Linked DNA regions of Homo sapiens: region 1 is linked to region 2. The links come from fine-mapping of genetic effects on gene expression. A gene starts in region 2. The other region holds a variant in brackets. All regions are shown on one strand. Distances are between the middles of the regions. Region 1 overlaps JUP (junction plakoglobin). Region 2 holds the start of JUP (junction plakoglobin).

Region 1 (5,331 bases), 26 kb before region 2:
GACAACACACCCCACAGCACTGCCCACCTCCACCCTGTAGCAATTCCATAGTGGAAAATGGGCCGTCACTGGGGAGTAAGTGTTACTGCTTTAAACTGGGCTGAGCATTGTTCATGAGCTACCTTGAAATTACCTGTGACTCTGCCTCATCTAACCATTGGAATCTAGTGTTAATGAGCTCACTGATGTGAAAGATGTTAGACTCTTCTTGTCTGTTATGGTACTTGCACATATTCTCCCAGTTTGCTGATTTTTTAAAAATGCTTTTTTAGGTTCTTTCTGAAATACAGATGGTTTTCATGTTTATATGGTTGAATCTCAAGTTTTTTTGTTTTTTGTTTTTTTTTTCCATTTGTGATCTCTTTCCTTGCTTTGAAGCTTAGAAAGCCATGCCCATGCAGGGGGTTGCTAAGTAGTCAATCTGGAGTGGCAACTTTCCTCCAAACTCCTCCAAAGACCTCTTGATACCTGGTCCAGGCCTCCCAAATCTGGGACTCCTAACCTTGCCCTTTAAGCAGTGGTGGGGGGACCTCTCCTGCCCACCTGCCCCAGACTCACCTGCACAAACAGGGGAATGGTGTTGAGCCGGAAGATCTCCATGCGGTTCATGGGGTCCCGGGCGAGGATGTGCAGTGCTCCGGTGCAGCCCTCCACAATCTCCTCCATCCTCACACCATCCTGTGTGAGAGGAGGCAGGGGGCATGGGACAGGTGCCTTGGACATGGCCACAACTCCTCCCCATGACAGCCGAATGAACTTCACAGGTTCTTGGAATTGGCATCAGTTGCAACTGACCTCCCCATTCACACACACACCCACAGAGGACACCCTGACCCCCCAGGAAGGCTGTCAGAGGCACCACCAGCTCACATACCGTGTAGGGCTGCTGTGTGCCTGCAGCTACGTGGCGCTGGGCATCCTGGTGGGCCTTCACCAGCAGTTGGACGAGGCGGGGGATGACCGCTGCCTCCTGCAGCGGGGCATGGTTGGCTGGGCACAGGGCCAGATTCCTGATCAAGCCGATGGTTGCCTGGCAAAAAAAGGGGCAGTGATCAGGGGCACTTCTTGGACATCTGAAGGATCCCAGCTTCCCAGCTTCAAGTATCCCTTCCCTCCTTCACCTCTTCTGTCCCCGAGGCCAGACACAGACATACTGGAAAATATCCAGAGAAGGAGACCATCCCAGCCATGTCACTTAATCCACAGGATCTGGGAGTGCTCATGGCTAATTCTTTTTTTTTTTTTTTTTTGAGACAGAGTTTCGCTCTTGTCACCCAGGCTGGAGTGCAGTGGTGCAATCTCACCTCACTGCAACCTCCACCTCCTGGGTTCAAGCGATTCTCCTGCCTCAGCCTCCTGAGTAGCTGCGATTACAGGTGCCTGCCACCATGCCCAGCTAATTTTTTGTATTTTTAGTAGAGACGGGGTTTCGCCATGTTGGGCAGGCTGGCCTCGAACCCCTGACCTCAGGTGATCCGCCTGCTTCTGCCTTCTAAAGTGCTGGGATTACAGGTGTGGGCTACCACGTCCGGCTGCTCATGGCTAATTCTAATAGCCCTTGCTAAAATGACACCCCATTCCAGAACATCCTGCCAGCCCCATGCCTGGCCCCTCACCCTGTCCCCTCTTTCTTAACCACCCCCCACAGACACCATGACCTTGCTTGCTTTTCTGATAGTCCTCCAAGCCTGATTCTCAGGAATTCTGTGCTCTAGGTGCCCCCGAAGCCTCCTGCTTGGGTGGTGCTCACATTGTCATTAATCCCCAGCAGGGCAGCTCTGGAAAGAGGTGTCCTGAGATCTCCTCCCCAGGGTCTTTGACTCAGAGGAGCCACTCTGGCCTCCCAGAGCCTCTCAAGGTGTCATCTATTTCATCCTCAAAACAAGACGCCAGGAGGACAGGGATGAAAATCATGTGAGATGGGGACGTGAGCACAGGGCAAATGACTTGCCAAAGTCACTTGCCACTTAGCTGCTGGGTTAGGATGCAAAGTCCCACCTCAGGTTTGCAGCAGGGACCAAGCATCAAGGAGGGGTCACAATGACATTTTTTTTTCTAAACATGAATTTTCTTTTTTTAATTCAATGTATAGGCCGGGCGCAGTGGCTCACGCCTGTAATCCTAGCACTTTGGGAGGCCAAGGCAGGCAGATCACTTTAGGTCAGGAGTTCGAGACCAGCCTGGCCAACATGGTGAAACCACGTCTCTACTAAAAATACAGAAATTAGCCGGGAATTGCTTGAACCTGGGAGGCGGAGGTTGCAGTGAGCTGAGATCATGCCACTGCACTCCAGCCTGGGCAACAGAGCAAGAATCTGTCTCAAAAATAATAATAATAATAAAAAATAATAATTCAATGTGTAGAATCACTTAGAGTCATTCTTATCTGCACTGGGTTTTTTTTGTTTGTTTGTTTTTTTGTTTGTTTTTTTTGAGACGGAGTCTCGCTCTGTCGCCCAGGCTGGAGTGCAGTGGCGCGATCTCAGCTCACTGCAAGCTCCGCCTCCCGGGTTCACACCATTCTCCTGCCTCAGCCTCCTGAGTAGCTGGGACCACAGGCGCCCGCCACCACGCCTGGCTAATTTCTTTGTATTTTTTTAGTAGAGATGGGGTTTCACCGTGTTAGCCAGGATGGTCTCGATCTCCTGACCTCGTGATCCACACGCCTCGGCCTCCCAAAGTGCTAGGATTACAGGCGTGAGCCACCACGCCTGGCCATGTTTTTTGTTTTTGTTTTCCAAGACGGAGTCTCTCTCTGTCACCCAGGCTGGAGTGCAATGAGCGATCTCAGCTCACTGCAACCTCTGCCTTCCGGGTTCAAGTAATTCTTCTGCCTCAGCCTTCCGAGTAGCTGAGATTACAGGCACATGCCACCATGGCCAGCTAATTTTTGTATTTTTTGTGGAGGCGGGGACTTACTATGTTGGCCAGGCTGGTCTCGAACTCCTAACTTCAGGTAATCCTCCCGCCCCGTCCTCCCAAAGTGCTGGGATTACAGGCGTGAGCCACTGCGCCTGGCCTGTCTGTACTATTAAATTGTCTTAAATGTAGCTGGCGGATGCCCCTGCCAGCTGGCTCCTGTGCCCGTTGACAAGACCCTCATCGATGGTAGCTTCCTCACTCTCTGGCACCAGATGCCACCTTGCCTTTGGCTGCCTTCCTTGTCTCTACATATAGATATACACACACACAAACGCTTTCCCCCATAACTCTGTCCCTTGGGTCTGCCCAC[A/C]CCCTGACCCACTCTCACTTCCCCCACCTGACAGGGAAGTGACACACAGCTAGCTCTCTTCCACCCAGGTAGCCTCAAGAAGAAGACCCCACTCCTTCACACACCCAACTCCCTATGGGAGATGCTAAGCGTCCCCAGAATCCTCTGTGCCCTGTGTCTCTGTAGTGGCTCTCCTGATTTTCAGCAGGACACACGGCCATCTGGCTGGTGATCACACTTCCTAACCTCCTTGCACCTTGATGTGGCTGAATGACCAAGTTCTGGGGTGTGAGCAGGAGTGATGTGTGCCACTTTCTGGTGGCCGCTAGCCATCCCCAGTTCTCAGGGCTAGAACACATCCGTGGGGATGATACAGTCCACTCATTCGTGTGAGGACAACCCTCTCGTCTACACCCAGTGGCATAAGAAATGTGCTCCATGGAGCAGCACCTGCGAGCTTGTTAAAAATACAGAATTGGGCCAGGTGCAGTGGCTCACACCTGTAATCCTAGCACTTTGGAAGGCCAAAGTGGGTGGATCACCAGAAGTCAGGAGTTCAAGACCAGCCTAACCAACATAGAGAAATCCCGTCTCTACTAAAAAATGCAGGAGAATCGCTTGAACCCGGGAGGCGGAGGTTGCAGTAAGCCGAGATCGCACCATTGCACTCCAGCCTGGGCAATAAGAGCAAAACTCCGTCTCAAAAAAAAAAAAAAAAAGAAGAAATACAGAATTGTCCGGGCCTGGTGTCTCACACCTGTAATCCCCGTACTTTGGGAGGCTGAGGCTGGTGGATCACTTGAGTTCAGGAGTTCAAGATCAGTCTGAGCAACATGGCAAAATCCCATCTCTACTAAAAATACAAAAATTATCCAGACATGGTGGCGTGCACCTGTAATCCCAACTACTCAGGAGGCCAAGGCAGGAGAATCACTTGAACCCGGGAAGCAGAGGTTGCAGTGAGCCAAGAATGTACCACTGCACTCCAGCCTGGGCAATAGACATTGTCTCAAAACAACAAAAAAAAGACATACAGAATGGCAAGCCCTCTGCAGCAGGCCTGCAGAGAGACAGAGAGAGAGAGAGAGAGAGAGAGAGAGAGAGAGAGAGAGAGAGAGAGAGAGAGTGTGTGTGTGTGTGTGTGTGTGTGTGTGTTTTAGATTGTTTATTTGTTTGGGCTTTTTTTTTTTTCCAAATTTTTTGTAAGAGATGGGTGTCTCACTATGTTACCCACGATGGTCTCAAACTCCTGGCCTCAAGTGATCCTTCCGCTTCCGCCTCTGCCTGCACCTCCCAAAGTGCTGGAACTACAGATGTGAGCCACTGCACCCAGCCTCCTGTTTTTCTTTTCTTTTAAGACACGGGTTCTTGCTCTGTCACCCAGGCTGGAGTGCACTGATGCAATCATAGCTCACTGTAACCTCCAACTCCTGTGCTCAAGCGATCCTCCGACCTGAGCCTCCCCTCCCCAGTAGCTGGGACCACAGGCGTGCACCACCACACCTGGCTAATTTCTGTTGTTGTTATTGTTGTCGAGACAGGTCTTGCTATGTTGTCCAGGCTGGTCTCAAATTCCTGGCCTCAAGCAATCCTCCTACCTTTGCCTCCCAAAGTGTTGGGATTACAGGCATGAGCCACCGTGCCTGGCCCTGGAACCTGCAATTTAATGAAACCACCCAGGGTACTCATGTGCATTTTGAACTCTGAGCTCTGCCCTAGGGGCTGGTAGAGCTACAAGATAGAAATCCCAATTCTGGAATTTTAGAGCAGAGCCATTGTTGAGGTCTAAACTATTACACGAGAGAGAAATAAACTTCTGTCTTATTCGAGCCACTGTATTTAGGGCTTCTTTGCTACAGCGGCTTTGCCTATACCAATACAGCACCTAAGCCTGCTGCAGGGAGCTCCTTCCCCTCGCCTAACAGCAGTACCTTGACCAGTGGCCACTGGTTGGGCTGGTTGAGCAGCTTCACGATGGCTGGGATGCCATAGTTGAGACGCACAGAGTTCTGGGCCATCTCGGCCTCAGGGTGGCGGCTAGTGAGGTGGCGCAGAGCGCAGACGGCAGGCTCCGTGATGTCGTCCTTGTCACCAGCACGCAGGATGGCATGGATGAGAGC
Region 2 (5,367 bases):
AAATCAGCCGGGGGTGGTGGCACACGCCTGTAATCCTGGCTACTCAGGAGGCTGAGGCAGGAGAATCACTTGAACCCAGGAGGCGGAGGTTGCAGTGAGCCTGGGTGACAGAGCGAGACTCCATCTCAAAAAAAAAAAAAAAAAAAAAAAAGAAAGTGCTTGGTTTCTGTAAAGTCTTACCTTGATCTTGAGTTACCGTTTGTCAAGTACTTACTGGGTAGATAGGTATTAGTATTCCCATTTTGCCAAAGAGGTCACTGAGGCTCAGGTAATGAGAGACAGAGCTGGGTCTCAAACCCAGCTCAGTTCAAGCCCAAAGCCCTGTGCTCAGAACTGCCCCACTGTCCCATCTCTCCAAATAAACAGTCCTTCTGTAGACTAGTCAATTGACCCATCTCACTCTAAGGTGGCTCCAGGATGGGAAAAAGGTTGGCAGCCCTAGCCCGACCTTTTTCGTTCCTATGCACTGCATTCTCAAAGCCTCGGCCCTGGCAGCCCAAACAGAGGCTCCAGAGGGAATGGGGTGGAGCCAGGGTGCAAGGGAGGGGTGGAGTGGGGGTGGGAGGGCTCAAGTCACCCAAGCTGGGGCTTGATCTAGCAAGAAATGACTAACTGGGTCCTACCTTCTCCTCCTCCCCCGCATCCCCCAGTCCAGTCAGTGGCCAGTTTTCACCAAGCACCTCCTAGCAGTACTTCCTCAGTATTATCTTTTCATCACAGCCACAAACCAGATTAGCTAAACTAATCATGTAGCCAACATAATTACAATGCCCTCCCCTCCTCCACCTTGGCACAGAGAAGAGGGAAAGCAGGTTATTTTTGCCCAAACTCCCTGCTCCTGTTGCTCCCCAGAGGTGCAGAATCCCATCCCCCGGCAGAAAAGGATCTGAGTTCCCACACTGACTTCCCCCTAGCACAGGGCTGAGCGTGATCCCCACCCAGGATAAAGGGGCTGAGTCTGGGCCCCCAGCCTCACTCCCCCATCTACAACAAAGAAAGAGGTGGTAGACTCTTCCCCTCCAAGCACTCTCGATCCCCGCCCCCCACAATCTTTCTCCCACCCCCAGGACTGAGAGAGAACCCAACTGTTGTATTCTCTCTCTGTTCCCCAACGAGGCTGGGCTCCAAATCCTGCAAAAAGACCACATTTCAGATTTTTTTTTTAAACCGGGGTACAAACCCTGATCAAGATCCCCAATTCTGGGTGGGGGGGGGCGGTCTCAGGAAATTGGGAGCAGGGAAGGCAGGGGGCCCGATGCAGCTCTGCCTGAGAGAGTCTAGCATTGAAGAAACCTTCCCCCAAAAAGCCTTCCTGCGGTCTCACTTTCCCTGTCAAATTCTTTCAGGAAAGCGGGTGGGAAAGGTCTGTGCAGGCCTCCAGAAAGCATGCACCTTCACAATTCAGAAATCAAATGGAAGGCAAGTCCCACAGCCTCATGCGCTTCTGCCTCAATAACCAGCCAGCTAAGTAATGTGGGGGATGGGGTAGAGGCAAAAAAAAAAAGACAAGAACAACCACTCCCCCCACCTTCCTCAGTTTGGCCCAGCCCTGCCCCACCCCCATTCCTGGGGAGGGGGCAGAGCTTGAGAGACAACCACTTACGCAGGCCTTGTCTGAGGGGGTGTGGTGGTCCCAGGAGGCAGGAAGAGAAGGAAGAAGCTGCTTCCCCTCTCAGCACTTTCCACCCCCCACCCCGGCCCCTACCTCAGGCCCCTGGGGCCCAGCGAACAGGATGAATGTGGGGGCAGGGAAGACAGGGTCGGAGCCCAGGCACCGGCCCAGGTTCAGCCAGGGGCCGGCTGGGGGAAGGGGTTTTGCACCAGGAAGGACCCCCTAAGCCTAAAGGAAGTTTTGGGCAAGGAGACGGGAAAACCCCCAGATAAAGCTGCTGTGAATACTTCCTCCTGCAAAGTTTGTTTTGGGTGATTTTTTCCAACAATAAGAGGTTAGAGAAGACGGGTCCTGTTCCCCTACCAACACTCTGGCAGCCACAGCTACTGGAAACTGGGCCAGGTGACCCTGAATTCTTCATCCGTGCACAGACCCCACCCCCCAGACCCCAGGGCGAGCCACGGGTGCCAGACACCAGCTGGACACTGAGCCGAGCCCTGCACCCCCCAGTCACTCCATCCCACCTCCGCTGAAGAAGCCAGAGCCGGGCTCCCACCGGCGTGGAGGGAGGCGCCGCAGGTAGTATCGACGAGGCTCTGGGAGCTGGAGGGCAGGGCCTCTGGACTCCGTGCGCTCACCTGCTCGGCAGGTGGGGCCAGAGTCGCTGGGAAAATGTGCGCTCGGCCCCCACAGTTGGGCAAGCTGGGCGCAAACAATAGGGCCCCACCCAGGCCTGGGGGAGTAGGGAGGGAGGGAAAGCGAGGATGACGCGTGGGGTGGGGTGAGGGTGGCCCCAAAGAGACCAGCGGCAGCAAGTTCCCCAAACGGTAAATTCCTGACTGCAGCGTGAGCCCTGGGACGCAGTCGAAGCAGAGCAAAGTCTCCCCCGCCAGCCCAGGGCGAGAGTCAGGGACGCGGCGTCGGGCGAGCTGCGCGGGCCCCGGGGGAGGCGCGACCCCGGAGGCACCTGTCCGGATCCCTCCCCGCCTTGCTCAGATCTCTGGTTCGCGGAGCTCCGAGGCGCGCTCGGCCCGAACCGCGCGACCCCCAAGTCGCCGCGCCCAGGACCCCAGCGCGCCCCCTGCCGCCGGTGCAGGGTGGCGCTCGATGGCACCGGCCCTCACCTGCCCAGGGACGGCTGGGACCGGCCCCGCGGCCGCTCGCCACCCCTCTGTCCCCAACGATACCTGCGCCCCCGATAGCCCGCACCTGAGTATGGGGCCTGACCGGGCCGGGTCGGGGTCGGGCCGGGGTGGGAGCCGGCGCGGACAGCGAACTGAGCTCGGCGTGGTCGGGCGGCGGCTGCTCCGGACTCTGGCCAAGGCAGCAACTCAGTAACCGAACAAAAGGCGAAGAGACCTGACAGCCAAGCCACGCCCCTCGCCACCTCGAAGCTCCGCCCCTGGGGGAGACGCCCACCCTCTGGTGCGAGCTCACTGGCTATCTCGCCTGACTGTCCCGTGGAGGGGCGGAGCCTCGCCTCCAGTCCTCTTCCACGGCCGCCTCTGTTTATCCGCTTGCCATTGGCCCCGGGGACTGCCAGTCGGCTCTAGGGATGGACTCTAACTTGAGGTCTCATCCTAACATTGCATCTATTGGCAGATAGAAAGTTACTTCCTCCTGATTGGACAAGGCTCTGTCAGTAAGACTAAGGAAAAAACCAATGGAAGGGATGGGGTGTGTCTTGCCCCACCCTTGCTCTGAGCAGGTGAGACTCATTACTCTCCCCTTCCCCCTACCTGTCCAACAGGTAAGTCATAGGGATACCAAGGGAAGGGACAGACGCCTTCACCGGCCAGCCAACTCAGCGTCAGGCATGATGCTTCTTTGGGCTTATTCATCCTTGCCCCAAAGTAGTAATCACATATTTGTATAGCATTTCATAGGCTTTGTGCTGGGGTGGGATTTTTTTCCCGAAAGATGGAGTACTCCTGGGATTTAGAATTAGAAGGCCAGGTTTGGTCTTCTCCCACTTGGTATGATTTTAGGCAAGTTACTTCACCCTGTTTCTCCTCTTCTGTAAACTGGATACATTAGCCATATCTACCTCACTGGAGTATGTGGGGATTAAATGAGGTCAGGTTTGTGAAAGCACTCAGAAACTGCTAAAGGTTAGAAATTTAAATTAACGGTATGTTTTTTTTTAATTATTGTGACAGCTCTGAAAAATAGTTAGGATGAGAAAACGACCCTCATTGTAAAGATGAAGAAACCGAAGTTCAGAGAAGTCACAAAACTACAAAGTGGCACACCCCAAGCTAGAACCTCCTTCCTCTCATTTGAAGGACCATCAAACCAGCTGTTCCCCTCATGGAAGAGGAGCATAGACATAAAATGTCAAGGCAATGGGGAAGGGGCAGAGAAAAGGCACAAACACTTGGAGGAGAGACAGAACAATTAATTGGCACAAAAATACAGTATTGGTGTCAGGAGGCTTTGGTGGGCTTGGAAACATCAAGCAGCAGATCTGAAGGAAATCCAGCCCTGGCATGAAAGAAACGGGGCAGGCCAGGCGCAGTGGCTCACTCCTGTAATCTCAGCATTTTGGGAGGCAAAGGCGGGTGGATCACCTGAGGTCGGGAGTTCAACACCAGCCTGGCCAATATGGTGAAGCCCCATCTCTACAAAAAATACAAAAAGTTAGCCGAGCGTGGTGGCGGGCAACTATAATCCCAGCTGCCTGGGAGACTGAGGCAGGAGAATTGCTTGAACCTGGGAGGCGGAGGTTGCAGTGAGCCGAGACCATGTCACTGCACTCCAGCCTGGGCATGACAGAGCGAGACTCCATCTCAAACAAAAAAAAAAAAAAGAAAAGAAAAAAATAAACCGGGCAGCACACCCCTCTGCGATAGGAGAGCCTGGGGTAGAGATCAGAGAGAACTTCTCGGCCAGGCGTGGTGGCTCATGCCTGTAATCCCAGCAATTTGGGAGGCCAAGGTGGGCAGATCACTTGAGGTCAGGAGTTCGAGACCAGCCTGGCCGACATGGTGAAACCCCATCTCTACTGAAAATACAGAAATTAGCCAGGCATGGCAGCGGGCACCTGTAATGCCAGCTACTCGGGAGGCTGAGGCAGGAGAATGGCGTGAACCCGGGAGGCAGAGGTTGCAGTGAGCTGAGATCATGCCATTGCACTCCAGCCTGGGTGACAGAGTGAGACTCTGTCTCAAAAAAATAAAAAGGACTTCTCACAGGCAGCTTAAGAAGACAAGGGCACTTCCTTTCTGTGGTTGATGACATGAATGCTGCTCGTGGCTGTATGGTGTGCCAAGGGCCCTACAAACATTCCTTCATTCAACACTTGAGTATTCATTGTCAACTGTATGTTAGGCACTGGTGAACACAGAAAATAAAACCTGGTGACACAGGAAATAAAAATGATCCCAACCTTCAAAGAGCTCATAGAAGGATAAGCAGAAGCAGCGTGTGTGGGTGGGTTTTGGAGGAGTGGTGGTTTAGAAAAGGGTCCCCCATCAACAAAGCTCTACAGCCCCAAAGCTAGCACACAGGATGGGCTGGATGAAGGTACCTTAGCAGCAACCTTGACCACTTTCCCCACCAGAGAAAAGAATGGTAGCTGAACATTCTCCCTTCTGAAGTTGCGCCATCCAAAAGCAGGGCCAGGGAGATACGGACATCCCTGAACTAGTGGCCATCCCATAACCAGGGCCACCGCCCTTTGCCTGTTTCCTCAACTCTCCATCCTCCAGCTTACCTCCCTATCTTTATCCCTGCCTTACCCCTGCCCCATCCAC

The links.
Region 1: its variant is fine-mapped to the expression of JUP in whole blood (TOPMed, PIP above 0.99).

What each region holds. Positions count from the first base shown.
Region 1 is chr17:41,757,841-41,763,171 of GRCh38, forward strand. It overlaps JUP (junction plakoglobin), which reads right to left. Exons shown (of 14, transcript NM_002230.4): 8 at 5,143-5,331; 9 at 875-1,030; 10 at 559-678. Among named protein-coding and RNA genes, the nearest start is that of HAP1, 26 kb to the left of the region's middle. The variant A/C (reference allele first, on the strand shown) is at 3,233.
Region 2 is chr17:41,783,767-41,789,133 of GRCh38, forward strand. JUP (junction plakoglobin) reads right to left here and starts at 2,945. Exons shown (of 14, transcript NM_002230.4): 1 at 2,822-2,945. RefSeq lists silencers at 2,237-2,449, 2,614-2,913.